2 linked regions of the Homo sapiens genome follow. The protein of the gene in region 2 interacts with the protein of the main gene of each other region in a pairwise test. Each region holds a gene or a part of one and is shown on either strand. Other genes may lie near its edges.

Region 1 (3,654 bases), on a different chromosome or scaffold from region 2:
CGGGAGTTGCAGTTGATAGGTTTTGTATCATCCTTGTTAAACTTGAACCCTGTGCAGAAATCCCTTCCACGGCATGGGGGCTGCCTGTTGACTCGCTCCTGTTCCACCACAGGGAGCTCCTGGGCTTCTTCCTCCCAGAGGCCCCCGACGCTCCCACCTGTTGGTCGTCAGAGCTTCTGGTTGGTGGGAAGGCACCCAGGACCTTGAGGTCTCCAGAGAGAAAAGCCAGGGAAAGAGGGAGACCGAAACCCATGTGACATGAAACTCAGGCTCCAAACTGAGCACGGGAACGTTTGGGGACAGGAGCGCGATGGCCTTCCTCAGATAGCTGGGGGGCTGGCATGAAGACGGGAGCTACAGCCAGCACAGGTCCTGGGCCGGGAGCCCAGAGATTGAGCCCTGACTCTGTCACTTACTGGCCACGTGACCTTGGGCGGGTGGCATAGCCTCTTGGAGACTCAGTTTCCTCATTGGTAGGAGTGACGGCCACAGTGGTGCGGCCTCTGCAGCACACGGGGGGCTCGGTGGGCGGAAGCCCCGGGTCTATAAGGCGGCTGTGCAGGAGCCAGCCGAGCTGGTCTCCCAACAGCCAGGGCTCCGGGGTCCTTAGCAGCTGTGGGGGGCCTGCACCTGTTTCCCATGGCTGCTGTCAGAAATTACCAGAAGCCAGGTGGCTGAGAGTAATGGACACTTGTTCTCTCACAGTTCCTGAGGGCTGAAGCCCGAGATCGAGGTGTGGGCAGGGCCCTGCGCCCTCTGAAGGCTCTGAGGGAACCTTTGGGCTTCTGGTGGCTCCAGGCACCCCTTGACTTGTGGTCCTGTCACTCCAGTCTCTCTGTCTGGCTGCACATGGCGTGGCCTCTTCTGTACCATTGAAGGACACTTCAGTTGGATTTAGGGCCTACCCTCACCCATTGTGGTCGTATCTTGATCCTTCATGACATTTGTAAAGACCCTGCTTCCAAATAAGCTCACATTCTGAGGTTCTGGGGTGAGCGGGAATTTGGAGAGCATTGTTCAACTAGTATAGAATGTGACCTGTCAGCCTCGGGCAGCCCTGAGAGGCAGGGGCTTTCCACAGCCCAGCTGGGTGCCCTGGGCTCCGTGCTGTCCGAGGAGACGCCATCCCCACACCCGTCCTTCACCCGCCACCCTCCCGCAGGTACCTGTACTTCACCAACATGCAGGACCGGGCAGCCAAGATCGAACGCGCAGCCCTGGACGGCACCGAGCGCGAGGTCCTCTTCACCACCGGCCTCATCCGCCCTGTGGCCCTGGTGGTGGACAACACACTGGGCAAGCTGTTCTGGGTGGACGCGGACCTGAAGCGCATTGAGAGCTGTGACCTGTCAGGTACGCGCCCCGGGGCCTGCCCTAACCGCAGACACCCGGCCTTCATTGTCAGTAATGGCAGCAGCTGCCACATTGTCCGAGACCTGCCGTGAGCCCAGTGCCGCGCCAGGGGCTTTGTGTGTAGCGTGTTTTGTCCTCACACTGACAGCTGTAGGCTGGGGTTCTGAGTGAGCCCCACAGGGCAGAGGCAGAAAATGAGTCTCAGAGAGGGTGAGCGAGCTGCTTGGGGCCCCACAGCAGGAGATGGAGCAGGACTGCAGCCTAGCCTCTGCCCCCAGCACCTGCGCAAGAAGCTGCTCTGCTCTGGACTGTGTTAGGCTGCGAGGGCTGGAGAGAAATGAGAGTTGGTGCTTAGAGAGGGGGCGCAGGTCCCCATGGCTTTTCCTCTTATGATGAGGTAGATGGGTGAAGGGAGGGGCCATGCTTGCAGGGGCCAGTGACCGAGGCCCGCCGTTGGAACTGATGGCCTTCATCCCGAGCCCAGCCCAGGTGGGAGCAGGGCTTTCCGAGGGCTTGTCTTGGGTCGGCCTGCTTCCAGGGACTCTGCTGCAGCTCCCACCCCTGTCCAAAGCATGGAATCCCCCAGGCTCCCTGGCAGTCCTGTCAACCTCTGTCCTCCCAAGCTGAGTGTGGGGCAAGTTCTGGAGGTCAGCACTGCTCAGGGGGGCCCACGGGCTGCTTGCAGGGGCCAACCGCCTGACCCTGGAGGACGCCAACATCGTGCAGCCTCTGGGCCTGACCATCCTTGGCAAGCATCTCTACTGGATCGACCGCCAGCAGCAGATGATCGAGCGTGTGGAGAAGACCACCGGGGACAAGCGGACTCGCATCCAGGGCCGTGTCGCCCACCTCACTGGCATCCATGCAGTGGAGGAAGTCAGCCTGGAGGAGTTCTGTACGTGGGGGCTGGCAGTGGGGTGGGCAGGGTGGCCTCTAAACCCGACCCCTGGAGGAGGCTGGAGGCCAGTGCAAGATCCTGTGTGGCCTCAGCCAGGCGGTGGTCTCTGCCAGATGCCAACTGTTGCCCGCTGGGGTTCAGCGACATGTCCGAATGTCCCGAGGCCTCTGAGGTTGTTTTCTTTTGCCGCAGAACAAATCACCACGAACAGCGTTTTAAGACAACACCAACTCTTTTTTTTTTTTTTTTTTTGAGTCAGGATCTTGCTCTGTTGCCCAGGCTGGGGTGCCCTGGTGCAAACACAGTTCACTGCAGCCTCGACCTCTGGGCTTAATTAAGTGAACACCTTGCCTCAGCCTCCCAGGTAGCTGGGACTACAGGTGGGCACCACCACACCTGGCTAATTTTTTTTTGTAGAGACGGGGTTTCCCCATGTTGCCCAGGCTGGTCTGCAACTCCTGGGCACAAGCTATCTGCCTGCTGTGGCCTCCCAAAGTGCTAGGATTATAGGTGTGAGCCACTGGCCTGACAACACCCACGGATTGTCTCTCAGTTCTGTAAGGCAAAGTCCAGGCACAGCGTGGCTCACCTGGGTTCTCTGCTCAGGGTCTCACGGGGCCAGAATCAAGGTGTCAGGAACGCTGGGCCCTCAGCGGAGGCTCTGTGGAGAAATTAGCTTCCTTGCTCACTCAGCAGGTAGCAGTTGTGGGATCGAGGTTCTGTTTTCTCTCTGGTTATTGGTCGGGGACCACTCTCAGCTCCTAGAGGCCACCACAGGTCCTTGCCCCGTGGCCCTCTCTGCCTCAGCAGTGGGGGCTCCCTGCGTCAGTCCCTCCCACACCTTGAGTCTCTCTGATTTGCTTCTAAAGGGCCCTGTGATTCGGCTCAGCCACCTTTAGATTAGGTTAGCCTCCCCTTTGATAGACTCCAAGTCGGCTGATTAATAACCTTAATCACATCTGCAGAATCCCTTCTGCCACATAAGGTCATGACGCCGTGCTGGGGACTGGGGTGGGAAATTACGGGGTCATTTAGGATTCTGCCTGCCACTGCCTTGCTGTGTCCCAGGGCTTGGGGGAGGGGCCTCCACAGCTGGGACCACAGTCCTTCCTCCCCTCCATGGTAACCATCTGAGGATTACTTGAGACCAGCCTGGGCAACATGGTGAGAACCCATCCCTACAAAAAATACAAACAAAAAGGGACCAGGCTGGGCTTGGTGGCTCATGCCTATAATCCCAGCACTTTGGGAGACCAAGGTGGGCTGATCACTTGAGGTTGGGAGTTCGAGACCAGCCTGCCCAACATAGTGAAATCCCGTCTCTACTAAAAATACAAAAATTAGCTGGGTGTGGTGGCAGGCGCCTGTATTCCCAGCTACTGGGGAGGCTGAGGTGGGAGAAT
Region 2 (2,561 bases):
TCGCCTGTCGGATCATCTATCGGTCAGACGAGCACCACCCTCCCATCCTGCCCCCAAAGGCAGACCTGACCATCGGCCTGCACGGGGAGTGGGTGAGCCAGCGCTGTGAGGTGCGCCCCGAAGTCCTCTTCCTCACCCGCCACTTCATCTTCCATGACAACAACAACACCTGGGAGGGCCACTACTACCACTACTCAGACCCGGTGTGCAAGCACCCCACCTTCTCCATCTACGCCCGGGGCCGCTACAGCCGCGGCGTCCTCTCGTCCAGGGTCATGGGAGGCACCGAGTTCGTGTTCAAAGGTAGGATTCCCATCTCAAGTCCCAGTATCACAGCCAATAAACAGCCCTGTGACATTTTTGTGGAGGCAGAGCTGAGGGAAAGGACCTCTTTTCTGCCTGAGTTCCCAGGAAAGAAATTGGGGAGTCATTTCTGCCTCAGTCCTTCCCAACGCCCTCTGAGTTTCTCCCTGCTCAAAATGGATCAGGTGGACAGCCTCCACTTGCAGGCCTGAATGCGAGAGGAGTCCACGCCACTGCCTGTGGGAAGTTGCCAGCCAGGGAGGATGTTACTGGGAATGAAATCTCTGGCCAGGTGCGGAGGCTCATGCCTGTAATCCCAACACTTTGGGAAACCAAGGCAGGAGGATCTCATGAGGCCAGAAGTTTGAAACCAGCCTGGGCAACATAGTGAGGCCCTAACTCTATAAAAAAATAAAATAAATTAGCTGGATGTGGTGGCATGTGCCTGTAGTCCCAGCTGTTCTGGAGGCTGAGCTAGGAGGATCGCTTGAGCCCAGGAAGTTGAGGCTACAGTAAGATATGATCATGCCACTGTACTCCAGCCTGGGCAACAGAGAAAGACCCTGTCTCTAAAAAACAAAAAAAGAAATCTCAAGTCTGCACTTTGTGTTCTTTATACACAACTCTGGCAGATTCCATGCTGCCCCTCTAATAACACTGCGTTTGCTTGCATGCCACAGTGCTTTCCTGAGTGAGCAATAAAGAGGTGTTAGTGACACCTCAGGTGCTCAGAGCTGTCCTTTCCAACCCTGAGCTTGTCGTGTAATTGAGAGGTTGTCACCTGCTTGGAGGTGGGAGCATCTGTGGGAAGGTTCAGGCTGTGTCCTTATCACTAAACGAGGAGGGGAGGAAGGAGCTGCACCAGGCTGCTAGCAACAAAGCAGGGCTTGTGGTTGCTATTTTTAAAAGGTTGCTTTTTTTTTCCCCCTAAGTTTGAGCATCTTTGTAAAATGGTGTCAGCCCTATCATACCAAATAAAGAGGGATAGCCTCGATCCCAGGTGACTCCTCCAGGATGGCGTTCCAGGGTTCAGTCCCATTACTATAAAAATGTTTCTGTTAACCCAGAAAGTCCTGGAAGACTTTAGCCCTCCTTTTGGGTAGCAAGGTTTGCTCCAGGAATACAGGCCCTTTGAGAAACTTAATTGAAAGCAAGCAATCTTTACTTGACTCCACCCTGAAGCTCATCGTGTTATACACGGAAGTGGCCCCCTGGAGGGACCTTCAGAAGCAATTCTCCACAAAAGCTGGGATTTGTATTTAATTTATTCACTCACATTTTTCTTGCTTGCAGCCTAACTTATTTTAGATGCCTGATGTATGGGCCCATAGGAATGTGTGAGAATGCCAACCAGAATAGGTGTTTGACACCAAAACTTTTAGAAACCCGAAAACCTTTTGATAAAAGCAAAATTCCAGCCTTTGTTGAATATTTTTCTTTCAATCCCAACGAGTCAGCATCACCAAATAAAACTCCTTAGGAGCACTCCGAGCTGTAGTTTTATTTGTTGCCTGCAGGCACTCCCAGCTGTATTCTGGGCTCAGTGTTTCTACACCAGATGGTCTGTGTTGCATGGCCACACCTGCAGCATATCGGTGTGACTGCCACCCAGATCAACAGGTTGAACTCTTCTCCGCCTGACAGTGCTTTGATGACTACTGCTGTCAGATGGGTGGGTCTGTAGGTGGGATTGTTTTTGGAAAAGAAAGCCTTGTCTAGTTAGAGTGTGGCCAGTGTTTTCTGGGTGGGTTTCTGGATCCCACGCCTACTCCCTGGAGTCATGGAACTCTCCTTTCTCCTTTGCAGTGAATCACATGAAGGTCACCCCCATGGATGCGGCCACAGCCTCACTGCTCAACGTCTTCAACGGGAATGAGTGCGGGGCCGAGGGCTCCTGGCAGGTGGGCATCCAGCAGGATGTGACCCACACCAATGGCTGCGTGGCCCTGGGCATCAAACTACCTCACACGGAGTACGAGATCTTCAAAATGGAACAGGATGCCCGGGGGCGCTATCTGCTGTTCAACGGTCAGAGGCCCAGCGACGGGTCCAGCCCAGACAGGCCAGAGAAGAGAGCCACGTCCTACCAGATGCCCTTGGTCCAGTGTGCCTCCTCTTCGCCGAGGGCAGAGGACCTCGCAGAAGACAGTGGAAGCAGCCTGTATGGCCGGGCCCCTGGGAGGCACACCTGGTCCCTGCTGCTGGCTGCACTTGCCTGCCTTGTCCCTCTGCTGCATTGGAACATCCGCAGATAGAAG

Evidence for each region. Proteins that work in one complex are often made in the same cells at the same time.
Region 1: the proteins of APCDD1 (region 2) and LRP5 interact in binary tests that used the Homo sapiens proteins (3 or more experiments, as listed by UniProt).

What each region holds. Positions count from the first base shown.
Region 1 is NC_000011.10:68,423,940-68,427,593, forward strand, and holds part of LRP5 (low-density lipoprotein receptor-related protein 5 isoform 1 precursor), read left to right. Parts: intron 1-1,162; coding exon 1,163-1,353; intron 1,354-2,038; coding exon 2,039-2,248; intron 2,249-3,654. UniProt on the Homo sapiens protein: Acts as a coreceptor with members of the frizzled family of seven-transmembrane spanning receptors to transduce signal by Wnt proteins.
Region 2 is NC_000018.10:10,485,481-10,488,041, forward strand, and holds part of APCDD1 (protein APCDD1 precursor), read left to right. Parts: coding exon 1-303; intron 304-2,109; coding exon 2,110-2,558; 3' UTR 2,559-2,561. UniProt on the Homo sapiens protein: Negative regulator of the Wnt signaling pathway. Inhibits Wnt signaling in a cell-autonomous manner and functions upstream of beta-catenin. May act via its interaction with Wnt and LRP proteins. May play a role in colorectal tumorigenesis.